5 separate regions of the Homo sapiens genome follow, and all the other regions are linked to region 1. Evidence: fine-mapped expression QTL. A gene starts in region 1. Each other region holds a variant in brackets. All regions are shown on one strand. Distances are from middle to middle. Region 1 holds the start of CAMKK2 (calcium/calmodulin dependent protein kinase kinase 2). Region 2 overlaps P2RX4 (purinergic receptor P2X 4). Region 3 overlaps CAMKK2 (calcium/calmodulin dependent protein kinase kinase 2). Region 4 overlaps P2RX4 (purinergic receptor P2X 4). Region 5 overlaps ANAPC5 (anaphase promoting complex subunit 5).

Region 1 (5,103 bases):
AGGCGTGAGCCACTGTGCCCAGACTTTTTTTTTTTTTTTTGAAACAGTCTTGGTCTGTCGTCCAGGCTGGAGGGTAGTGGTGCGATCTCTCTGCCTCCCGGTTCAAGTGGTTCTCGTGCTTCAGCCTCCTGAGTAGCTGGGATTACGGGCACCGCCACCACACCGGGCTAATTTTTGTATTTTTGATAGAGATGGGGTTTCACCATGCTGGCCAGGCTAGTCTCGAACTTCTGGCCTCAAGTGATCTCTCCGCCCGGGCCTCCCAAAGTGCTGGGATCATAGGCGTGAGCCACCATGCCCGGCCTCAGGTTTTTGCCATTTCCAGCAAATGCATGCACGTTGAGTAACATCAGAAGAGGTGGATGGCCGAGCATGTTGGCTCATGCCTATAATCCCAGCACTTTGGGAGGCAGAGGCAGGAGGATCACTTGAGCCCAGGAGTTTGAGACCAGCCTGGGCAACATAGGGAGAACTCTGTCTCTACAAAAAATAGAAAAAATTAGCCAGGTGTGGTGGTGTGTGCCTGTAGTCCCAGCTACTCAGGAGGCTGAGGCTGGAGGATCACCTGAGCCTGGGGAGGTCGAGGGTGCAGCGAGCCGTGATCGTGCTACTGCACTCCAGCCTGGGCAACACAGAGAGACCCTGTCTCAAAACAAACAAACAAACAAACAAACAAACAAACAAAAAAAACAAAGAAAAAAAAATGGGAGTGGGCCGGGCGCGGTGACTCACACCTGTAATCCCAGCACTTTCGGAGGCCAAGGCGGGTGGATCACGAGGTCAGGAATTCAAGATTAGCCTGGACAACATGGTGAAACCCCATCTCTACGAAAAATACAAAAATTAGCCAAGTATGGTGGCCGGCGCCTGTAATCCCAGCTACTCGGGAGACTGAGGCAGAGAACTGCTTGAACCTGGGAGGCAGAGGTTGCAGTGATCCGAGATCGCGTCACTGCACTCCAGCGTGGGCGACAGAGCGAGACTCCGTTTCAGAAAAGAAAAAAAAAAAAAAAAAAAAGGGAGTCGGGGTGGAGCTCTCATTGGCTCGTTGCATGTGAGTGTCCCTACGGCCTAGAAATACAAGAGAAGCACATCGGAACGGGCTGGAAATCCACCCAGTTAACTAGAGGGCTTTGAACCTTTTATTAACTTGGAGGTTGACTCTCCTGTCAACTCGATTCCCTTTTGGCTGTTTGGCAGGGTCAGTGAGACATCCCCTGGGTCGCTCGACCCCGTAGGACGGTTCAGGGAGCCCTCCAGGTCTTCGTTTCTCCTCTTCCCCGCACAGTGCTGTTATCCAGCTGGGGGATCCAACGCACACTTAAGGCTCCAGCAAAGTAAGTGCCAAAAAGGGGAGAATGGGAAGAATATGCTGTATTTCACAAAAAGCATCTAAGTAGCCATCTGGAAAAGCCAGAATGAACTTCAATGGTGCATCCAGGTGGGCTGGGGATGGGAGAGGAACGCCTTCCCCCAGCCTTTAGGGCCGGCCCTGAGCAAGTGGTCAGTCGGCAGGCAGCTGCGGAAGGGGGCTCCCCCGAGTCGGTGGTGGCCCAAAGTCCAGGCCGCATCCACCGCCCGGCGCCTAGCGCAGGGGCAGCAGCCGGGTCGCCACAGGAGGGGCCCCGGGTGTTCTTGCCGGCTTGGGGGAACTTTCCCAGGGTCAGCCCGGAGGCGCCCTGCAGCCCCGGCATTTGGCTAAACAAAGCAAGCGCTGCCGGCGCGGCCCGCCCGAGGGCGCCGCGGGAAGAACCTGGGCAGGTGCGCGCCGCGGGCGAGCGGGTACAAAGTTGCGGCGCCACCTCCTGCGCTCCGCGCCCCTCCAGGCTCTCCTCCCAGCCGCCTCCGATCCTCCCGGCCGGGCCTCTCTTCCCCCGTTCTTCGCCTCCTCCCTTTCTGCTCCTTGCCCTTCGCCTCTTCGCTACTTTCGTCTTTGCAGGCTCCCGCCTCCCCACCCCTCCCCGGCGCAGGGCCGAGCCGGCGGGGGCGCGCAGGGGGCGGTGCGCGGCGGGCGCGGGCGGTTCCGCTTTCGGGTTTCCCGCCGCCGTGGCCAATCCCCGCGCTGCCCGGGGCGGCGACGCGCCCAAGCCGAGCCGGGCGGCTCCTCCCGCCCCCGCCCCCCGCGCGCCCGCCGCCCGGGCGGAGGAGAGGAGCGCGCGGCCGCGCAGAGCAAGCTGAGCCGAGCCGAGCCGAGCTGGGGGCGCAGAGCGCGGGAGGCGGCGGCGGCGCGGAGCCCAGGTGAGCTGGCGGTAGCCGGGCCCGGGGCAAGGGACGCAGCCGCCGCGGCCCCGGGCGCCCGCTCCGTTTCCCTCTCGAGGCGGGGGACCGCCGCCGGCATGGCACACAAAGCCCGGAGGCTGGCCTGGGGCTCCCAACACGGAGGGACCCCACGTGCGCCTCCCCACGCCCCGCCACGTGGAGGGACACGGTCCCCGACAGCCCTTCCCCCGCGTCCTCTGGGCGCCCTGGGCCTCGGGATGGCCTCCTCGGCTGGGCCGCGCCCTGTCCGGGTGGCAGGGGCGGTCCTGGAGTTTGGAACCGGGGTCACCGGGGGCCGGGTCCGTCAGGGTTCGTGGAGGCGGCCTAGGCCCAGCCCCTCGCGTTTGACAGGTGGGGAAATCTGGAGCGTTCCGGGGAAGAGAGGACCAGCGGACTTGGAGCACCCCCACCCCGCAGCCTGCCTGTCTCGGGGCAAACCCAGGCCCTGGTGGCTTGGACACCAGGTGGCAGGACCCTAGGCCAGCAGTTGTGGGGACCTAGGGGACCTTTGGCTGTCTTCGGTCTGCCCTTTGACCACCCCCACCGCACCTCTTCTCTCAGCCGGAGCCTCACAGGCTTGGTCCTTCTGACCTAAATTCACCTCGGGGTTGCAGTATGCTGTGAATGCGGAGAGGCGTCCGCCTGACTCTCAGGGACACTGGACCCAGCCCCTCTCAGCATTGGGGCTCTGTGCCTGGGGTGCCACCCGACCCAGCCTTGAGCTTTTCCTGGCTTTCCCCCAGCCCCTGCACTGCCTAGCTGGGGAAGTGGGTGCTTTCACAGCTCTGCCAGCCTGCCCTCCTGGCCACTCTCACTTAGTGCTGGACAGGATGCAGCTCAGCCCCTCCGATCTCCCCGAGAAGGCTGAGCTTTGGGGAGGGCGTCTCAGTGCTATCAGCAAGAGAGGGATACCTGGCCTCCGGATGGGACCTGCAGCGTCCATCTCCCTACAGGCTACTTTTACCTTCCCCAGCCTGGTGTTTGGAGTCTCCACGCAGGGGATAGAAACTTCAGGTGCCCTAGAGCTGTGCTGCCATTTACCACTCCCCCTCCCCTAGCTCTGCCCCCAGAGGAGAGAGAAGAGGATGGCTTTATGTCCCCATAAGCTCCTTTGTTCCTTGGAGGAGGCGGGGGCTGCAACAAGGGGAGGGCTTTGGGGGAGTTAGCCACCCTCTTCCCTAATCACCCCACAAAAACATGCAGTTTCAGAATAAATAGTGTGCATGCCATGCAAATGCAGCTTTAGGGCAAGCCCCACATACCCCTTCCAGACTGCTGCTCATACACCCTTCCTATGGAGGAAGCAGGCATTGGTGACACACACCCTTCCTATGGAGGAAGCAGGCATTGGTGATGAGGACGCAAAACATATTTTTGTAATGAAGAGTAATAGCCATCATTTGATGAGCCCCTAACTTGGATAATAATAAGAATACTTATTTATTTATTTTGAGACGGAGTCTCTGTTGCCCAGGGTGGAGTGCAGTGGCACAATCTTGGCTCACTGCAACCTCCGCCTCCCGGGTTCAAGCGATTCTCATGCCTCAGCCTCTCCAGTAGCTGGGATTACAGGCGCCCACCACCATGCCTGGCTAATTTCTGTATTTTTAGTAGAGAAGGGGTTTCACCATGTTGGTCAGGCTGGTCTTGAACTCCTTACCTCAAGTGATCCGCCTACGTCAGTCTCCCAAGTGCTAGGATTACAGGCATGAGCTGCCACCTGGCCCTGGACAATAATAATAATAACAGTATTAAAAACTAACATCTATTGAGTTCTTGCTGCCTGCCAGATTCTGTGCTATGTGTTACATGCATTATCTCATTTAATGCCTACCAAATCCTACAACGTAGGGAATTTTAACCCCATAGTAGAGATTAGGAGACTGAGGTTTACAGAAATCCTGCAGTGTTGCTAGGATTTAGCCCCATTTTATAGAAGGGCTCAGAGAAGTTAAGTAACTTGCTCAGGGTCACACAGCCAGTGCAGGCATGTCAGGCCTTAGAACCTTTGTGCACCTGTTCAAGAGCAGAGACCCTGGCAAGGCTGCCCTGAGCTTCTTGAGGAGCCCAGGAGTTTGTTTTGTTTTGTTTATTCACTACATCAGTGTTTGCCGATGCAGCTCTATGCAGGGTCTGTAGTACTGCCCATCCTTAGATATGGCTAGTGGGCTGGTAGCTAAATATAGTCACTAATAACAATGCACTAGTTCTCATCCGGGGGTGGTCCCACCCTCCTGGCAGGGATTTGGGAAAGTGTGGGGGCGACTTTTGGTTGTCAAAATGATGCTAAGCACTCCTGGCTTTTAGTGGGCGGGAGTCAGGGATGCCTACTAAAGTGTCCTGTAGGCAGGCCAGGGCCACGACATAAAGAATCACCCTCCCCTGGCTGGGCGTGGTGGCTCACGCTTGTAATCCCAGCACTTTGGGAGGCCGAGGCAGGAGGATCACCTGAGGTCAGGAGTTCGAGACCAGCCTGGCCAACATGGTGAAACCCCATCTCTACTAAAAATACAAAAATTAGCTGGGCGTGGTGGCACACACCTGTAATCCCAGCTACTTGGGAGGCTGAGGCAGGAGAATCACTTGAACCTGGAAGGCGGAGGTTGCAGTGTGCTGAGATCGTGCCATTGCACTCCAGCGTGGGGCACAAGAAGGAGACTTCCTCTCAAAAAACAAACAAAAAACAAAAAAAAATCACCCTCCCCCAAATGCCAGCAGTGCCACTGTTGAGAAACACCACAAGGAATGAGTGCTGTTGTGATCGAAGGAGCACAGGGCACTGAGGGTTCTGGAGAAATCTCCTCAGACTGGTGTGAATCTGGGAGGCTCCCTGAAGGAGGTGTC
Region 2 (5,103 bases), 76 kb after region 1:
AGAGGCCAGGCACAGTGGGTCATGCCTGTAATCCTAGCACTTTGGGAGGCTGAGGCGGGTGGATCACCTGAGGTCAGGAGTTCGAGACCAGCCTGGCCAACATGGTAAAACCCATCTCTACCAAAAGTACAAAAATTAGCTGGGCGTGGTGGTGCATGCCTGTAATCCCAGCTACTCGGGAGGCTGAGGCAGGAGAATTGTTTGAAACTGGGAGGTGGAGGTTGCAGTGAGCCGAGATCATGCCATTGCACTCCAGTTTGGGTGACAGAGCGAGACTCTGGCTCAAAAAAACAAAAAAACAAAACAAAAAAAAAAACAAGAAAAAACAACAACAACAACAAAAAAAAAAACAGTAGGGCAAGAGCTGGGATGGCTTGTGGGGCTCCAATGACAGCAGTGAATGTAGAGGGGCTCCAGGACCCCAGCCTCGGCACCTGGCTCACCCAGGGTCATGTGAAGGAATTGGGAAGATTTCTCTATCAGAGACGCTCCACAGTGGGGGCGATCTGCTCAGGGGCCGCCCTCCCCAGGAGGCCACAAGCTCGTACCGTTGCTGTGGGTGCCGGCAGAGCCGGCAGTACAGCTGGCATCTGATTTACACACAGTGGTCGCATCTGGAATCTGGAAAAAGAAGGAGCGAAAAGAAAGTCCACGTGGCCCGGCCCCACACACAGGTGGACAGGCGTGGAGAGGGGTGTGGGGCCTGGGGCTCTTCCCGGGGGCCTCCTACCTCGGGGCACAGGCCCTGTGTCTGGTTCATGGTGAGGATCACGTTGGTCATGACGAAGAGGGAGTTTTCCTCCTGCAGAGGGGAGACAGCACGGGCAAGCCACGCTCAGAGGACTCACGGAGAGCCAAGAAAGGCAGACGCTGACTGAAGAGGACAACTCAAACACTGACCGCGTGCTCTCCCGCTCTCTCCCATCAAAGTTTATAACCCAATGGAAAACAGTGACTCAAACAAGTCCTTGTACATAAATATTCAGAGCAACACTTTTCACAAGAGCCAAAAGGTGGAAACAGGTCGGGCGCGGTGGCTCAAGCCTGTAATCCCAGCACTTTGGGAGGCTGAGGCGGGCGGATCACGAGGTCAGGAGTTCAAGACCAGCCTGGTCAACACAGTGAAACCCCCGTCTCTACTAAAAATACAAAAATTAGCCGGGTGTGATGGCGGGCACCTGTAGTCCCAGCTACTTGGGAGGCTGAGGCAGGAGAATTGCTTGAACCCGGGAGTCGGAGGTTGCAGCGAGCCGACATCGCGCCACTGCACTCCAGCCTGGATGACACGAGACTCTGTCTCAAAAAAAAAAAAAAAATGGTGGAAACAGCCCAAATGTCTGTCCTAGTCTAGTCACATGATGGAATGTGATTCAGCCATGAATAAAAAGGAATGAAGGGTCCAGGCATGGTGGCTCACACCTGTAATTCCAGCACTTTGGGAGGCTGAGGCAGGAGGATCACCTGAGGTCAAGAATTCCAGATTAGCCTGGCCAACATGGTGAAACTTTGTACTAAAAACACACACACACACACACACACACACACACAAACACACACAGACACACGCACACACAAAAGGAGCCGGGTGTGGTGGCGGGCACCTGTAATCCCAGCTACTCAGGGGGCTGAGCCAGGAGAATCACTGGAACCTGGGAGGTGGAGGTTGCAGTGAGCCGAGATCACGCCAGTGCACTCCAGCCTGGGTGACAGAGTGAGATTTCATCTCAAAAAATAAAATAAAGGAATAAAGCACTGATACAGGCTACAACATGGATGAACCCCAAAAACATGATGCTGAGTGAAAGAAGCCAGACACAAAGGCCACACAGGATACCATTACATTGATGTGAAATTTCCAGAACAGTCAAGTCCATAGAGACAAAGCACTTACGGGTTGCCAGGGAGTGAGAGAAGTGGGGAATGGGGAGTGGTTGTGTAACATACGAGGCTTCCCTTTGGGGTGATGGAAATGTTTTGAACTAGATAGAGGTGATGCTTGCATAACACTGTGAATGCACTAAATGTGCTGAATTTTTCATTTTAAAATGGTTAATTTCTTTCTTATTTATTTATTTATTTGAGACAGAGCCTTGCTCTGTCGCCCAGGCTGCAGGGCAGTGGCACGATCTTGGCTTACTGCAATCTCCGCCTCCTGGGTTCAAGCGATTCTCCAGCCTCACCCTCCTGAGTAGCTGGGACTACAGGTGTACATCACCACACCTGGCTAATTTTTGTATCTTTAGTAGAGATAGGATTTCACCATGTTGGCTAGGCTGGTCTCCAACTCCTGGCCTCAAGTGATCTACCTGCCTCAGCCTCCCAAAGTGCTGGGATTACAAGCATGAGCCACTGTGCCCGACTTAAAATGGTTAGTTTCTATAAGTGAATTTGACTGCAGTTAAAAAAAGGGGGGGGTCTGCAAACTGAAACAATGGTTTCTCAATCAAACTTGACTTACTGAGGGAAAGAGCCAACAAGTGCTAAAAACATTCCCTGCCAACCAGATTATCTCAGAGGAATAAAAACATGAGGCCTCATGGGGCTCAAATCTGGCTGGTTTTCTTTCCTAACTGAAATTATAAATCAAACATTCTAGAGAAGACTCGGTCAGGGTCAGCAAGTGACATTTCTCTTTGAAAAGGTTCTGTTTCCTCCTTATATGTATAAAGGTGCCAAATAATTGATTTAGAGTTTCTGGAAAGCAATTTGCTAGGGATGAGACTGAAGAATTGCTGATAATGACCTCCTCATATAAGGAATAAAAGGCAAAGACCCCAAAAGATTCTAGTTGGATCCTCCTCTCATTGGGGGCTGGTGTCCATCCATCTAATCTAATCTATCTATTATCTGTCTATCTATCTATCTATCTATCTATCTATCTATCTAATCTATCCTATATCTATCATCTGTTTTCTATTTATCGATTATCTATCACCTATCTAATCTATCCTATCATCTGTCATCTATCCTATCCCTTTTCTTTCTTTTCTCTTCTCTTTTCTTTCTTTCCCTTTCTTTCTCCTATCCTATCATTTATCTATTCTTTCTTTCTTTCCATCTATCTATCTATCTATCTATCTATCTATCTATCTATC[TA/A]TCCATCCATCCATCCATCCATCCATCCATCCATCCATCCACCACCCATCCAATCAAGATGGGGTCTCACTATATTGCCCAGGCTGGTCTTGAATCCTGAGCTCAAGTGATCCTCCTGCCTTGGCCTCCAAAAGTGCTGGGACTACAGGCGTAAGCCACTGCGCCTGGCTGGGCCCAGGCATTTTAAAAGGAGATGCCCAAAGCTTTTAGCATTTCACACTCCTGAGGATAACAGTCAGTAGTGGGAGCCATCTTGGGGATCAGGGCAACTCAGAAACCAACCAGTCTGTAGACATCCCCAACCCCACGGTCTGACAAGTGGTGGAAGCTCTAGAAATAGCTGGCGTCCTCCAAAGGCCTAGGGCAAACTATGTTGGGAGACAAGGAGAAGGCCACAGGAGGAGGCGTGAGGATGTGGCATGAGCTGCAGCCTCTCTCCCGCCACCTGTCACGTTCCCAGGTGTTCAATGTACAAACACACTCTGCATTTGGTGTTAGAGAAGGCCGCTCCTACGACTCTCCTGAGTTATACTTGGAACAATCCAGTATGGTCTACTTTTCGTTTCCTATCTCTCCTTCTTTCTCTCTCTTTTAGAGTTGGGGTCTTGCTCTGTTGCCCTAGCTGGAGTGCAGTGGCGTGATCACAGTTCACTTCAGCCTCAAACTCCTGGGCTCAAGTGATCCTTCTGCCTCGGCCTCCAAAAGTGTTGAGATTACAGGCATGAACCACCACATCTGGCCTGTTTCCTATCACTTATCTACTTCAAATTAAGGGTAATTTCAGTCTGGAGATGAGCCAAGGGGCTGCAAATAGATGACTGTGTTCCATCTACAAAGAACACAGACGTCGTGAAAGCTCATGAGGAAAGCCCTGGGGAACTCACACGGCCCCCGCCCAGATCCACCACGGAAGGCTGAGTTGTGGGGTGCTCCTTTCCACCAAGGGACAAAAGCGGGGCTTGTGCCCTTCCTCATCTGCCCAGTAAACACACCGAGCATGACATTCCCAGAGCTCACCGGGACAAGGCTATGCCTGCACAGGAGGCAACCGTCTCTCTGCTGAGACAGGTACATGCTAACAGGACTGCCCCCTCCAGCCAACTGCAAATCCCCTGTTCCACTTGATCTTTTTTTTTGAGACGGAGTCTTGCTCTGTCACCAGGCTGGAGTGCAGTGGCACTATCTCGGCTCACTACAACCTCCGCCTCCCAGGTTCAAGAGATTCTCCTGCCTCAGCCTCCCTAGTAGCTGGGACTACAGGCACCCACCACCACACCCCACTAATTTTTGTATTTTTAGTAGACAGGGTTTCACCATGTTAGCCAGGATGGTCTCAATCTCTTGACCTCATGATACACCGACCTCGGCCTCCCAAAGTGCTGGGATTACAGGCATGAGCCACCGCACCTGGCCCTTCCTCCTGACTTTTATGGCTCATTAGCTCGGTCTCCTCTCTGGGGACCCCACAAGACCCTTCTCTTGAGAAGGCAGGGGGAAGAACACACCTGAAGAAAGAGTTTCTGGAGTTCTTGTTTTCCCTGGCAAGAGCTCTGAGCCAAGAGTTGGCAGCTTATCTCTACTGGTCGCCCTCGGTCCCTTAGCACATAGGCCATCTGGAGGGCTATGTCGGGTTTGACTGTGTGGTGCAGAGCTGTTACCAGGACTAAAGAGTCAATGTTTAACTTGGAGCTTTGCAGATTAACAGCCTGAAGACTAGTATGCAGCAGTAAACAATGTCTTCCCTTCCTTTCGCTCCCGATGGAGTCCTGTGCTGCTGTCTCTGTTTCCTTCTTGTTTGGGTTTTGGTCTCTAATGGTCTCTAATTCTTTTCTTTTTTTTTCTTTTTTTTTTTTTTTATAGAGATGGGGTTTCACCACATTGCCCAGGCTGGTCTCAAACTCCTGGGCTCAAGGTATCTGCCCGCCCCAGCCTCCCAAAGTGCTGGGATTACACACGTGAGCTACTGTGCCCGGCCTAAAGTTTTTACACTGTCTGAAAAGATTTACC
Region 3 (5,151 bases), 53 kb after region 1:
AGGGGCCCAGTGACTCTTATGGGGCCCTCAGGCCATTCCCTTCATGGGAAATGGCAGCCAAGAGCATCACCAAGAATGACTGGTTCACGTCCTTGCTCCAGAACTTTCCGGGGCTCTCTGGCTGACCACAGGCCAAGTTCCAGACCCCTCTGGGTGGGGATGCTGAGTCAGGGAGTGAGGGGACCAGATCTGGGTTTTGGAAGGGATGGGAGGGAGGGAGGTGGAAAGCAGGGAGGCCTGGGAGAGACGCTGAGCAGTGGCTGAGGGTGTGGTGCAGGACAGCACCTTTTCCCAGAGGATTCTTTCGGCGGGGGTTGGTTGCGGGGTGGTGCTGCCCAGTTTCTCTCAAAGTCTGCCATCGGTCACCAGCCCTGGGAGCTGGCAGGGGCTGGGGAGAAGGAAGAGGGAGGATGTTGCCCAGAATCGCCCCCACATGGCCAAGCAGTTGCCTGCCACCTCCTCTTTTCTCCCTCTTCAGATCCTGGTGAAGACCATGATACGTAAACGCTCCTTTGGGAACCCATTCGAGGGCAGCCGGCGGGAGGAACGCTCACTGTCAGCGCCTGGAAACTTGCTCACGTGAGTGGCCGCCTGCCTTCTTGGGTGGGGGAGTGGTGGCTGGAGGCTAGGCTTGGGGCAGCCCTGCCCAGACCACTCTGCACAGGTCCTCCCTGAAGTGGTGCCATCTGGAGAGACTCAGATGAAACCCACCTGGTGCACTGGGACAGTCAGCACCCCAACCTGGGCTCAGCCCACCTCCTTTTGCTGACAGCTAATCCACCTGAAGTTTACCTTTCTCGGGAACTTGCACTGTAGCTGGGGGGCTCTTGGTCAGTCAGAAGAAAAGCACTTTTGTGGCCCGGGACCGTGAGTGCCTGATGGGGAGGTTTGAGGCTCTGTGCTGGGCGAGCAGTGTGGTCTCACTCAGGACCCTGTGTGTCCATGCAGAGAGGTGTCCACTCATCTGCTGTCAACGCCACCCTGGCTCCAGCTCTATGAAGCTGGTGTTTGGGGTCTGAGTGTCTCAGGGTGGGGGAACGGGCATCCCGTGGATCCCAAGGGTCCCTTCTCACTTCCCTTTTCCCTCCCTCTGGTGATTCCAGCAAAAAACCAACCAGGGAATGTGAGTCCCTGTCTGAGCTCAAGGTAACGCCCGCCTGCCTGTGCCGTAGCCTCTGCTGGGGCCTGAGGGGGGCGGGTGGGCAGCTGCAGAGCACGGGGGCATCCCCACCCGGGCAGATGCTCCTTCCAGCCTGGGCTGCTGTGGCCCGGCTCACCGCGGGCCTCCAGACCCAGTATTAGAATGAGGGGCCTCGGGGGCTTGGACCCAATGGTGGGTCATGCATGTGGGCTGGGGCTGCGGGTGCATGGCGCTCCAGCTGGAATGCCTGAGAATGCACCCAGGTCTGAAGATCCTGTGTGGCACCCATGTCTTCTCAGTGCACGTCAATGGTGTTGAAGCTCTGTCACAGGGCCCATGGGTGCCCCCCCGAGTCCGCATGGTCAGCACATAGGTCAGGCATGCTGCACTGTGTGGCTCTTCGCTAGGGGCTCTCCAGCCTCCACTTCTCTTTCTTTGATGTGTTTAGACCTAGAAAATAAGTCCCCTTCCTGCCTGTTGCAAAGTAACGTAAGAGTTCCCTCACCCGAGTGGATGCAGACCTTCTTGCTGTCAGCCACCCTTCCTTCATACACATAGCCAGCCCAGGTGACCAGAACCTCCCAGGACAGATGAGGCTTTGTGTCCTTATGAGACTGGGAGAACCTGCTGGGCACCCCTGCTGCAGGTGCTGTGGTGGGTGGGGACCCCACTGCCCTTCCCACTGAGCACATCATGGCTACCTGACTTGGTGGGAGCTCCAGGCAGTCACTTCTGTTTCTTAAACATAGCTTTACTGAGGTACAATTCACATACCATGTAATTCACCCACGGGAAGTGTATGATTCAGTGGTTTCTAATACAGACTTCTGCAGCCATTACCACCGTCAACTTTACGACATTTTCATCAGCCCAAGAAGACACCCTACACTCCTTAGCTGTCCCCATCCAACTCCCCCACCCCAGTAACCACTCAGAATAGGTATGGATTTGCCTATTCTGGACGTTTCGTATAAATGGCGTCATACACTACGTGGCCTTCTGTGTCTGGCTTCTTTCTCTCAGCATCATGTTTTCAAGGTTCATCCATGCTCTACATGTATTAGTGCTTCATTCCTTTTCATGGCCAAATAAGATTCCATTGTTTGGATGCACCTCACTTTGTTCATCCATTCCTCTGTGGATGGACTTGTCTCCACCTTTTGGCTATCGAATGAAGACTGATGCTATGAACATTTGTGTACAAAGTGTTAGGAGTTGGCTTACGAGATGAAATGGATTGAC[T/C]AGCAGGCTGGATGCAGTGGCTCACGCCTGTAATCCCAGCACTTTGGGAGGCCGAGGCAGGTGGATCATGAGGTCAGGAGTTTGAGACCAGCCTGGCCAATATGGTGAAACCCCGTCTCTACTAAAAATACAAATATTAGCCGGGCATGGTGGCGCACACTTGTAGTCCCAGCTACTCGGGAGGTGAGGCAGGAGAATCACTTGAACCCAGGAGGTGGAGGTTGCGGTGAGCTGAGATCACGTCATTGCACTCCAGCCTGGGCAACAAGAGCAAAAATCTGTCTCAAAAAAAAAGGCTGGGCGCGGTGGCTCACGCCTGTAATCCCAGCGCTTTGGGAGGCCAAGGCAGGCGAATGACGAGGTCAGGAGATCGAGACCATCCTGGCTAACACAGTGAAACCCCGTCTCTACTAAAAATACAAAAAATTAGCCGGGCGCGGTGGCGGGCGCCTGTAGTCCCAGCTACTCGGGAGGCTGAGGCAGGAGAATGGCGTGAACCCGGGAGGCGGAGCTTGCAGTGAGCCGAGATTGCGCCACAGCACTCCAGCCTGGGCGACAGAGCGAGACTCCGTCTCAAAAAAAAAAGAAAAGAAAAAGAAATGGATTGGCCACCCATCCCGTGGGAGTCAGGGCTTATATGGTAATCTAGGAGGAACACCTGTTTGGGAATTATTTATGCTTTTGAGAGAAACCTTGCCCTCCAGCATAGAGCAGGGAAAATGGCAGTCCTTCAGAACCGGTCTTCAGCAGTCTCAGAAGGCAGACACAGTCCCCAGCTTGTGCCCAGACAGACGCCTGGGCAGCCCCGCCTTGGGTGTGAGCCTCACGGATGATGGAGTGGAAACCCAGCGGGCTGGCCTTTCCTCGGCCTTCCTCCTCTCAATCTCCATTTTAGGGTTTGCCAAACCGGGGCTGCCTCCTGTCTCTGAGCAAGTCTGCTGTTGGTTTCTTTCCTATTTTCTTTCTTTCTTTCTTTCTTTCTTTTTTTTTTTTGAGACAGGGTCTTGCACTGTTGCCCAGGTTGGAGTGTTGGAGTGTAGTGGTGTGATCTCGGCTCACTGCAACCTCTGCCTCCTAGGCTCAAGCGATTCTCCTGCCTCAGCTTCCTGAGTAGCTGGGTTTACAGACATGTGCCACCATGCCCAGCTAATTTTTGTATTTTTTTAGTAGAGATGGGGGTTTCACCATGTTGGCCAGGCTGGTCTTGAACTCCTGACCTCGGGTGATCTGCCTGCCTCAGCCTCCCAAAGTACTGGGATTACAGGCATGAGCCACTGTGCCCGGCCTTCGTTTCAATGAGATCAAAATTGCAAGACACCAGCAGATGGAGACTGGCCCCAAAGGGCTATGCTGCCCCTTCCTTTCTTCACCTGGGATCCCCTGCCCTCAGCCCCCAGCAGGTAGGATGCCTTGGTCATGGGAGCTCACAGAGCTGATTCAGGCACTGGGGGTCTTGGACTGGGGGCCTGCCTGCCGTCTGCAGTAAGACCCAACCCCTACCAACAGGCAACTGCGAGGGCAGAGACTGAGGGCCTGACCTAACGTCTAGTTACAGCGCCCCCCTCCCCAGGGACCTTACCCACATTCTCCATCAGAAACATAGCAAGCCAGACATCACGCTTCCTTTCCCTTGTGTAAGGACAGTCTCCCTCCTGGACAGGAGACACGGATTGTTGTGGGGGAAGGACAGACAGTAACCCATGTGGCATGCCCAGTGACCTCCCTAAGAACAGGGGAGCTGTGTGATGGTGGTGAGGGGATAGGCTCGGGGATTCCCCTCGCACCTGTCACGCCATCCACGCTGTCACACCGGCGGCTCCAGCCTGGGCTCTTCAGGGAAACAAGGGCTCTCCTCCTCCCACTTCCAAGAGGGAAGGGGCCTCCTCTTCTGTCTGAGGTGCTCCTCCCTCAGGGCTGGCTGCAGGAGGGCTGAGGCGGGAGGATCCCTGGAGCAGTTGTCATCTGCCCTTTCTTGAGGGCCAGCTGTGTGCCAGGCCAGGCAGGGGAGGCTCTGATCACCCCCACACACAAGGAACTCAACATCTGGTGACTGAGGACAAGCGTCACAGTCCCTTCCCTGTAAGGGCTCATAGCCTAAGTGGGGGATCGAAGTACCTAAAAACCTGGTATGACAGGCGCCGTGGGGTGGGGGGTGCCTTCTACTTGGGATTTGTGCAGTGAATTTTGGTGTTACATAGTTTTGGAACTGTTGTACGGGTCCTTGCTATTTTTGGCAAATGATGCTGGTCTTTCATTTACAGAGGGGCTGCGTGCAAAGTCTCCTTTGAAAAATTTATGTGAGCAAGGAAAAGGGGAGAGGATCTCAAAGACTGGGTTACGTAGATCACGTTCCAGGGGGTGCGCGACGGCCCACTTGGGCAGGGGGCCCAGATGTGGGAGCAGCTGGCTCAGGGCCTCGCTGGCATTTCTCAGAGTCTTAATGTTGGTTTTCTGTTCGGTGAGCAGGAAGCAAGGCAGCGAAGACAACCTCCAGGGCACCGACCCGCCCCCCGTGGGGGAGGAGGAAGTGCTCTTGTGAGAGGCAGTCCCTGCGTGGAAAGTTGCTGGGCCCCCGCCCCCGGCTCCCCCGCACGCATGCATCCACTGCGGCCGGAGGAGGCCATGGAGCCCGAGTAGCTGCCTGGATCGCTCGACCTCGCATGCGCGCCGCGTCGCCTCTGGGGGGCTGCTGCACCGCGTTTCCATAGCAGCATGTCCTACGGAAACCCAGCACGTGTGTAGAGCCTCGATCGTCATCTCTGGTTATT
Region 4 (5,151 bases), 62 kb after region 1:
GGGATTAACCTCGTTTTATGGATCATCGTCTGTGAGGTGAGGCTCCAGAAAGTTAAGTCAGTTGTCCAAGGGTTAGAATTTGCCAGCAAAACCCTTCTGGTTTTCTTTTTTGAGACAGGGTCTCGTTCTGTCACCCAGCCTGGAGTGCAGTGGCAGTCTCGGCTCACTGCAATCTCCACCTCTCAGGCTTAAGTGATCCATCCACTTTGGGTTCCAAAGTAGCTGGGACCACAGGGGCCCACCACCACACCAGCCCCCACACCCAGATAATTCTTAAATTTTTTATAGAGACAGAATCTCACTATATTACCCAGGCCTGGTCTCAAACTCCTGGACTCAAGCAGTCCTCCCACCTCAGCCTCCCGAGTTGCTGGGACTACAGATGTGCACCACCATGCCTGGCTAATTTTTAAATTATTTGTAGGGATGAGGTCTCACTACCTGTTGCCCAGGCTGGTCTCAAACTCTTGGACCAAGTAATCCTCCTGCCTCAGCCTCCCAAAGTGCTGGGATGACAGGCGCGCATCACCACACCCAGCCTCCTGCTGGTGTTCATGGCATCTAGAAACACACCCGCCCCTCACCCCAACACTGGCTTGCTTTCACATTTGTTTTAGAAAAGAGGCTAAACAGCATCTCCCCCACTTCGGAAGACAGCCAGTGACCATCACTCCTTGACGAGCAAGATCATAAACACACCCATTGCCCTTAAGTCTGTTTTGTGCTGCTGTTACAGGGACCTAAGACTGGGTAATTTATAAAGAACAATAATTGATTTCTCACATTTCTGGAGGCCAGGAAGTTCAAGATCAAGGTGCTGGCAGGTTTGGTATCTGGTGAGGGCTGCTCTCTGCTTCCAAGAGGGTGCCTTGGTGCCGCATCCTTTGGAGGGAGGAACACTTGTCCTCGCGTGGCAGACAGTGGCAAGGCAGACGGGGGATGAGCTCCCTCTCTAGCCCTCGTATAGGGCACCAACCCCATTCATGAGGGCAGCGCAATCCTGACTCAGTCACCTCCCCAAGGCTTCACCTCCCAATAAGGTTGCCTTGGGGATGAAGTTTCCAAAATGTGAATTTTGGTAGACACATTCAGCCCATATCACCATTCCTAAACATTCCAGCTTCATTTGACCCATGTGCCTAAGCAAGCACTTTTTATTTTTTCAGACAGGGTCTCACTTTGGTGCCCAGGCTGGAGTACAGTGGCACCATCATAGCTCACTGCAGCCTCAACCTCCTGGGCTCAAGTGATCCTCCGGCCTCAGCCACCCAAGTAGCTGGGACTACAGATATATACCGCCACACCCGGCTAATTTAATTTTTTGTAGAGATAGGGTCTCACCATGTTGACTGGGCTGGTCTTGAATGCCTACGCTTAAGTGATCCACCTTGGCCTCCCAAAGTCCTGGGATTACAGGCAACAAGCATTTTTTTTTAAAAGGCAGCATGAACCAGAGCTTCAATAAAGGGAGTTGGTAAACTTTTTTTTTTTTTTCCAAAAGCAAGAAAAGCCCAGGTTGGCCATTTATCCAGCAGAAGCAGAGTATTTGTAAAATAATGGTTCCTCTCAGTACTTGGAAGTGAATTCATGGCAGAGGCGAAGGGCAAACTGCTTCCTCTAGGGGGATTCTGAATACCTGATGCAGAATTCAGCTGGTGTGTGGCTGGGTGCAGTGGCTCACGCCTGTAATCCCAGCACTTTGGGAGGCTGAGGCGGTGGATCATGAGGTCAGGAGTTCCAGACCAGCCTGGCCAACATGGTGAACCTCTGTCTCTACTAAAAATACAAAAATTAGCTGGGTGTGGTGGCAGATGCCTGTAATCCCAGCTACTTGGGAGGCTGAGGCAGGAGAATTGCTTGAACCCAGGAGGCAGAGGTTGCAGTGAGCCGAGATCATGCCACTGCACTCCAGCCTGGGCAATAGGGCAAGACTCTGTCTCAAAAACAAAAAAACACAAACATTTAGTTGGTGTGAAGCTGCAGCTGGAAATAGCTTCATGAACATTTCGAACCTGTGCGGAGCTAGGTATGCGTGCTGCTGCTTTTGGTTGGAGACTTTTGGGAAGCAAACAGGGAAGGGAGAGGAAGCCACTTCCATGTTACCAAAAATTGTGTTACCCACAGCATAGAATTGTAATTTTATGTCAAAATGGAGGCACAGGTAAGATGTCACTAGAGAAAAAGTGTCCTGTGAACTGTGCAGGAAGACAAGCTAATGACAAATTATTAGGCTTTAAAAAGTAGGCAGCTGGGTGCAGTGGCTCATGCTTGTAATCCCAGCACTATGGGAGGCTGAGGTAGGAGGATCGCTTAAGCCCAGGAGGTGGAGACTGCAGTGAGCAGTGATTGCGCCACTGCACTCCAGCCTGGGTAATAAAAAAAATAAATAGGCCAGGTGTGGTGGCGCACACCTGTAATCCAATCACTTTGAGAGGCTAAGGCAG[A/G]TGGATCATTTGAGGTCAGGAGTTCGAGACCAGCCTGGCTGGCCAATGTGGTGAAACCCTGTCTCTACTAAAAATACAAAAATTAGCCGGGCATGGTGGCATGCACCTGTAATCCCAGCTACTCGGGAGGCTGAGGCAGGAGAATCGCTTGAACCCGGGAGGCAGAGGTTGCAATGAGCCGAGATTGCACCACTGCGCTCCAGCCTGGGCGACAGAGTGAGACTCTGCCTCAAAAATAAAATAAATAAATAAAGAAGTAGGGGAAAATGTGCATAAGTGCCAGAAACAGACCATCCCATGGACCTTTTCTGAGCACAGTGAGCCGGAATAGTGGATTTACTGGTTGTCGTAAAAGGGTAGGAAGGAAAGTTCTAGCACATGCTATGAGACAACAGACAGGGATTAAGAAAATCACGCTTTAATGTCTGGTCCTCGATCACCTTAGCACAGCGCTTCTCTGAGGAGAAATGCCAGCTCTGCCGCATGGCTGCAGGGAATGGTCGGGGGGAAGCCTGCAGCCCAGGCCTGCTACAAGTCTAGTGACTGCAGCCAGGCGGCCTCCCCTGCCGCATAAAGTGCTTGAACAGAGCCGCCGTGCCTCAGAGGACTGGGCCTGTCCTGGAGAGAGCTGGAGACAGGAGGCTTCTGAGCAAAGCCAGCTCCAGCCCTGAAAGCCACAGCAGTGCCACTGCGTCGGGCCAGCGCTCCCCCGACAACCCCAGGTTGCGGGAAAAGCAGAGTTGACCCAGCCAAGAACAGACTGCTGACCTCCTGGGCCGAGTGGGCAAACAGATCCTGCACACAACACACAGGAGCTGCTGGGGAACCCTGAGTGCTTGTGGAGTGGAGACTCAATCAGATTCCAGAAATTTCTCTGGGGTGATGTGGTGGCCATTTCTCCCTCCTCCTCCTCTCTGTTCTTTGATGGGGCTGTGGAGAGCCCAGGTGTGGGGTAGGCCTCACTGGTCCAGCTCACTAGCAAGACCCTGCAAAGAAGGACACAAGCAGATCAAGGTGCCCCTGGGACCCCTTGTGGCAGGCGGGAGGGAGGTGCGCTCCTGGGACTTCACCGCCAGGGGTTCTCAAGTTGGTCCCAGGCCTGGAACCCAACCCTTCCTGTTCCGCAAGGTGCACTGAAGTAGTGTGTGCCCACAGGCATTCTCAGAGCATGCATTATCATCACCAACCTGAGATGTCGCTCATTGAAACGAGGCTGGGTTTAAAGAGTCAATCTAGTACAGGGGCCTAGGGATGGAGCAGCTGCTGAGAGTGGCAGGACTGCCCGGGTTAACGGGGACACCACGCCACACTGGTGCCAGCCTCTGCAGAAGGGCCTCCCCAGACAGGCCCACGCCCAGGGCTCCCACACCCAAGAGATGAGAGGCCTGTGCCTGCTGGGGGCCAGGAGGGGCCTACCTGCTCGTAATCTTCCACATATTTATATTTCTTCTCCCGATAGTAGAGTCTTTTCTTCATGCAGTAGAGGACTATGATGTCACACAGCACGGTCGCCTGAGTTTAGCATAGGGTGAGAGTGAGCCAGGATGCTTGCAACCCATCAACCCATCTTATTCTTTGCGTGCCCCTTCCTGAGAAGCCTGGAATCTTTACCGGAATGGAAAGGCACTCCCATCTCTTGGGAGAAGGCTGGGACCTGAGGGGGGTGGTCTTGGAGAAGGGAAGGTGGGAGGAGGGCTGGGGGCCAAGGGAAAGAAGGTAGGAGGGTCAAGTTTAGAAACACATCTGAGGTCTAGGGCCTAGGGCCAGGACCAGGACCCCAGCCCAGGGTCTCACCTCACCGTGAGGGTGAAGGCAGGGCCTAAACCACTCACCATGCCTAGCAGTGCCAGGCCAGAGCCGATGTTGATCATAGTGGGGATGATGTCAAATTTCCCTGCCTGCCAAGACACCGAAAAAGAAAAAAAGTGTTTCTGCAGGGGCAGGGAGAGGCCCCTTGTCCCTGCAGGGAGTGACGGAGGGGAGCCAGTGGCGGCGAGCTACCTTCCCAAACACAATGATGTCGAAGCGGATGCCATAGGCCTTGATGAGCGTGCGCTGCTCGTTGCCAGCCAGGTCTCTGTAGTACTTGGCAAACCTGAGGGGAAGGAGGATGGATCAGGGGGAGATGGCTGGGGCAGGACCTTGGGCCCTGTGAGAGAACGTTAGAGTGGAGCTGGCACAGGTGAATGGTCCACTCTGCCGGCTGAATGGACGCTGGAGCGGCTCGGGGCCTCTCCTGGCTGAGGCGGGCTGTGCAAGCAGGAGGATGCGGGGCCCACGAGGTACAGGGGCACAGGGAGACCTCCTCCTCCAGCACCAGTGTCCTCTCCTGAACCTGAACAGTTTGCTCTCAACATCCCACCTGGTACATCCTGCCTGCCTCCCTCAAGGGACCCTGACCTCCAACATCTAACAGTAAGAATGTGACCAGCCAGCATTGCAGGAGGGGACTAAGCCAGCCCCAACACAGCATCAGTGCAGGGACTTTTTTTTTTTTTTTTTTTGAGATGGAGTCTCCCTCTGTTGCCAGGCTGGAGTGTAGGGGCACCAATCTTGGCTCACTGCAACCTCCACCTCCCCAGTTCAAGCAATTCTTCTGCCTCAGCCTCCCGAGTAGCTGGGACTACAGGCGCACACCACCATGCCCAGCTAATTTTTGGATTTTTTAGTAGAGACGGGGTTTCACCAAGTTGGCCATGATGGTCTC
Region 5 (5,000 bases), 44 kb before region 1:
GCTGGAGTGCAGTGGCGTGATCTTGGCTCGCTGCAACCTCCACCTCCCGGGATCAAACAATTTTTCTGCCTCAGCCTCCTGAGTAGCTGGGACTACAGGCACGCACTACCACACTTGGCTAATTTTTTGTATTTTAGTAGAGACAGGTTTTCACCATGTTGGTCAGGATGGTCTTGATCTCTTGACCTTGTGATCCACCTGCCTTGGCCTCCCAAAGTGCTGGGATTACAGGTGTGAGCCACCGCGCTTGGCCTCCTCGATGTTTTCTTCTAAGAGTTTTTAATTTTTTTTATTTAAAAATGTATTATTTATTTTTTATTACTAGCAGGTGGAAGGAAGATCTTCTAAGAGTTTTACGGTTTTTGGCCTCACATTGAGGTCTTTGAGTCCTTGGCCTCACATTGAGGTCTTTGAGTCCTTGTGAGTTAATTTTTGAATATGGTGTTAGATAAGGATCCACCTTCATGCTTTTGCATGTGGATGTGCAGTTTTCCCAGCATCATTGGTTGGAAAGGCTGTCCTTTCCCTATCAAATGGTCTTGGCACTGTTGCCAAAAACCATTTGACCATGCATGCCAGGGCTTCTTTATGGGCTCTGTGCATTGATCTCAACATCACTTTTTATGTTTTTCTTTCCTAGTTCTGAGGAGAGAGTTAAATTTTTTGAACTCTTTCGATACAAGAATCCATCTGATTTTATAAATGTTATCATTTTTACTTTTGTGTAATTCTTTACTATTTTTGTTTTTTTATTTTTTCCAGAGAAGAGGAGGTATCTTGCAGTGGGCCTCTGTCCCAAAAACAAGCAGAATTTTTTCTTTCTCAACAGGTATGTGAATTCTGTAATTTATCATGAACTTCTGTTCTAGTCCTGTGATGTGTCTAGTCCTGTGATGTGTGTTGTGGCATAGGCCCGTTATGTGCATAGGTTTGTTGGTCAGTCTGTGTCAGCCTTTACTCTTGGTCCCCTCTGCCTCACTAACGAAGCACTTGTAGCTCTGTGCCCCTTCCTATTTTGTGTGTGATTTTATTTTTCTATTAAAGTTATAATCCAGGTTTCATTTAGTAATGGTATGTGACTAACAGCCTAAAACCCTGTGATTTAACCCTTCTCTCAACATTTTATTATAGACATTTGCAAACATAAAGAGAGCCTGAAAAGCAGTGTATGGTAATTACCCATACCTATTACCTCGATTCTACAATTAATATTTTTGTTCTATTTATTACTTATCTAACCACTCTCTATTCAGCCACCATTTCATCTTATTTTTTGATATATATTTCCAGTTGCAGATATTAATACACTTTGCTCCAAACACTTCTCTCTTTTTTTGTTGTTTTTGAGACAGAGTCTTACTCTGTTGCCCAGGCTAGAGCATTGCCCAGGCTGGAGTGCAGTGGCATGATCTCGGGTCCCTGCTACCTCTGCCTCCTGGGTTAAAGCTATTCTTATGCATCAGACTCCCAAATAGCTGGGATTACAGGCGTGCACCACCACACTTGGCTAATTTTTGTATCTTTAGTAGAGATGGGGTTTCACCACATTGGCCAGGCTGGTCTTGAACTCTCGATCTAAGGTGATCCACCTGCCTTGGCTTCCCAAAGTGCTGGGATTACAGACATGAACCAGCGTGCCCCAAACATTTCTTTTTTGTTTCTTTTTTTTGAGACGGAGTCTCACTCTGTCACTGAGGCTGGAGTGCAGTGGCATAATCTCAGCTCACCGACACCTCTGCCTCCCGAAGTGCTGGGATTACAGGTGTGAGCCACCACGCCCAGCCCAAACATTTCTTATGGATGCTTTTCAGCCATATTTTTTCATTTTCTTGGAAACATAATCTGAACATTTTTCTGTGTTATTTTCAGCATAGAATTTTTAGTTTTTGCTCTATTTTTCTACTTTTCCCTAATTTTGTTATGAGCTTTCTGCAGAAAGATGTAATGTTTATATCTAGACAAAAGTGATGGAGGCTGGGCATGGTGGCTCACGCCTGTAATCCCAGCACTTTGGGAGGCTGAGGCAGGCGGATCACAAGGTCAGGTGTTTGAGAGCAGCCTGACCAACATGGTGAAACCCTGTTTCTGCTAAAAAAAACACACACACAAAAATTAGCCGGGTGTGGTGATGCCCGTCTGTAATCCCAGCTACTCGGGAGGCTGAGGCAGGAGAATCGCTTGAACCCGGGAGGTGGAGGTTGCGGTGAGCGGAGGTTGCAGTGAGCCAAGATTGCGCTACTGCACTCTGGCCTGGGTGACAAAGTGAGACTCCGTCTCAAAAAAAAAAAAAAAAATTTACGGAATTACCTCTGCAGATGAATTTCAAACAGATTAGAAAAACCTGTCTATGTGATTGGTTAACTGTAAGGAAAAAGTACAGCTGGATCCTTCCTTACCTTACCTTGTACCTCAGTATATTACAGATGGATTACAGGGTTAAATGTAAATATTTACAGCTTTAGTTAGATAATTAGGCTAGAATGAGCTACACATTGTTGGTTTTTTTTTTTTTTTTGAGATGGAGTTTTGCTTTTGTTGCCCAGGCTGGAGTGCGGTGGTGATCTCAGCTCACTGCAACCTCTGCCTCCCGGGTTCAAGCGATTCTCCTGCCTCAGCCTCCTAAGTAGCTGGGATTAGAGGTGCCTGCCACCACAGCTGCCTAATTTTTTGTGTTTTTAGTAGAGACGGGATTTTGCCATGTTGGGCAGGCTGGTCTCAAACACCTGACCTCAGGTGATCTGCCCACCTCGGCGTCCCAAAGTGCTGGGATTACAGGCGTGAGCCACTGCG[C/T]CTGGCCAGAGCTTTCTAACATAAAAGCTATGGAATACTTCAGAGGCTGAGGCAGGAGAATCGCTTGAACCTGGGGAGTGGAGGTTACAGTGAGCCGAGATCACACCACTGCACTCCAGCCTGGGCCACAAGAACGACACTCCATCTGGGAAAAAAAAAAAAAAAAAAAAAAACTGGAAGAAAACATGTAGGAGAAGATAATTTGATTTTCAGAATAAAAATTGAAAGCATCTCCATGTCAGGACTTGTTTTAACATAATTAACAGGCAAACAGGATGGGCGTGGCAGCTCATGCCTGTAATCCCAGCAATCTGGAAGGCCAAGGCGGGTGGATCATTTGAGGTCAGGAGTTCGAGACCAGCCTGACCAACATGGTGAAACCCCGTCTCTATTAAAACACAAAAACTAGCTGATGTGGTGGCATGTGCCTGTCGTCCCAGCTACTTGGGAGGCTGAAGCAGAAGAATCGCTTGAACCCATGAGGCGGAGTTTGCAGTGAGCCAAGATTTCGCCACTGTACTTCAGCTTGTGCGACAGAGCGAGACTCCTTCTCAAAAAGAAATAAAATTAAAAAATTAAAAGGCAAATAACAAAGGTGTTCTTGGGCTCCAATACTTTGGGAAAAAGTATTTACAATAAATATGACAGTGAAAGTTTAGATTTTGGTTTTGGTTTAGAAATCACATTTTCAGGCCGGGCACAGTGGCTCATGCCTATAATCCCAGCACTTTGGGAGGCAGAGGCAGGTGGATCACCTGAGGTCAGGAGTTTGAGACCACCCTGGCCAACATGGAGAAGCACTGTCTCTACTGAAAATACAAAAAATTAGCCAGATGTGATGGTGGATGCTTGTAATCCCAGCTACTTGGGATTCAAGAAGAATCACTTGAACCTGAGAGGTGGAGGTTGCAGTGAGCCAAGATTGTGCCACTGCACTCCAGCCTTGGCGACAGAGCAAGACTCTGTCTCAAAAAAAAAAAAAAAAAAGAAAAAAAAGTCATATTTGATGATGAGACAAAGTTTACAATATAAAATGAAAAGAACAGGAAATAAAGTTACATATCATATTCTGATTTTGTTAAAAATATAATGTGTATATACACATTATATAAATTTGGAATACACCCTGTATTATAAACATATATTGTGATTTTGTTAAAAATGTAATGTATACACAATATATGTTTACAATACAGGGTATATTGTAAATTTATATAATATGTATACACATATTTTTAACAAAATCAGAATATGATATGTAACATATATACACACATACAGAACAAAGACTAGGATAATATACACTAAAGTATTAATAGCGTTATTTCTGGGTAGTGAGATTGCAGAAGATTTTTGTTTTCTTCTGTAGGTTTTCTATATTTTTGGAATAATTTTTCCCCATACTACACCTACATAATAATTTGTTTTTTGTTTTGTTTTGTTTTGTTTTTTTGAGACTGAGTCTTGCCCTGTCACCCAGGCTGGAGTGCAGTGGCGTGATTTCGGCTCACTGTAATCTCTGCCTCCCGAGTTCAAGTGATTCTCCTGCCTCAGCCTCCCGAGTAGCTAGGATTACAGGTGTGCGCCACCACACCCGGCTAATGTTTTGTATCTTTAGTAGAGACAGGGTTTCACTATGTTGGCCAGGCTGGTCTCCAACTCCTGACCTCATGATCTGCCCTCCTCGGCCTCCCAAAGTGCTGGGATTACAGGTGTGAGCCACCACGCCTGGCCAATAATTTTCTATAATGACATAAATTAACAATGGAATTAGAAATTATTTTTACTTTAAAAAAATTTTTTTTAAAGAAATTATTATTTTTAAATAGAGATGAGGTCTCAGTATATTGCCCAGGTTGTTCTTGAACTCCTGGGCTCAAGCGATACTCATGCCTCAGCCTCTGCCTCCCAAAGTGCTGGGATTACAGGCATCAACCACCACACCCTGCCCTTAGAAATTATTTTACTTATAGAAAAACTCATCTAGGTAAAATTGGAGTTAAGTGTCTATAACCCAGTTAAATGTAAACATTTAATTTGTAGCTAACTTTCTACATATTTTATATAATTGTTGCTGATATCGTCCATATGAAACAAATAAGTAGAGCTGGGGCAAGCCACCTGGCTCCCATAAGGCCCCATACAGGCACTGGAAATACAAGAAGCAAACACATTACCTGCCTGGAAGGAGCTTACAGTCTGGGGTGGGG

What was found.
Region 2: its variant is fine-mapped to the expression of CAMKK2 in monocytes (Fairfax 2014, PIP 0.95).
Region 3: its variant is fine-mapped to the expression of CAMKK2 in blood mononuclear cells (TOPMed, PIP 0.95).
Region 4: its variant is fine-mapped to the expression of CAMKK2 in sun-exposed skin (GTEx, PIP above 0.99).
Region 5: its variant is fine-mapped to the expression of CAMKK2 in whole blood (TOPMed, PIP 0.99).

Annotation. Positions count from the first base shown.
Region 1 is chr12:121,293,773-121,298,875 of GRCh38, reverse strand. It overlaps CAMKK2 (calcium/calmodulin dependent protein kinase kinase 2), which reads left to right and starts at 2,167. Exons shown (of 17, transcript NM_001270485.2): 1 at 2,167-2,238. RefSeq lists a silencer at 1,482-2,631.
Region 2 is chr12:121,217,612-121,222,714 of GRCh38, reverse strand. It overlaps P2RX4 (purinergic receptor P2X 4), which reads right to left. Exons shown (of 12, transcript NM_002560.3): 3 at 731-802; 4 at 549-621. Among named protein-coding and RNA genes, the nearest start is that of P2RX4, 10 kb to the right of the region's middle. The variant TA/A (reference allele first, on the strand shown) is at 3,096.
Region 3 is chr12:121,240,568-121,245,718 of GRCh38, reverse strand. CAMKK2 (calcium/calmodulin dependent protein kinase kinase 2) reads left to right here. Exons shown (of 17, transcript NM_001270485.2): 15 at 479-579; 16 at 1,104-1,146; 17 at 4,850-5,151. The coding sequence ends at 5,020. Among named protein-coding and RNA genes, the nearest start is that of P2RX4, 33 kb to the right of the region's middle. RefSeq lists a silencer at 4,874-4,953. The variant T/C (reference allele first, on the strand shown) is at 2,384.
Region 4 is chr12:121,231,802-121,236,952 of GRCh38, reverse strand. It overlaps P2RX4 (purinergic receptor P2X 4), which reads right to left. Exons shown (of 12, transcript NM_002560.3): 9 at 4,446-4,539; 10 at 4,277-4,342; 11 at 3,861-3,956; 12 at 2,847-3,430. The coding sequence ends at 3,404. Among named protein-coding and RNA genes, the nearest start is that of P2RX4, 24 kb to the right of the region's middle. RefSeq lists an enhancer at 2,584-3,211. The variant A/G (reference allele first, on the strand shown) is at 2,445.
Region 5 is chr12:121,337,832-121,342,831 of GRCh38, reverse strand. ANAPC5 (anaphase promoting complex subunit 5) reads left to right here. Exons shown (of 17, transcript NM_016237.5): 5 at 763-829. Among named protein-coding and RNA genes, the nearest start is that of ANAPC5, 12 kb to the left of the region's middle. The variant C/T (reference allele first, on the strand shown) is at 2,791.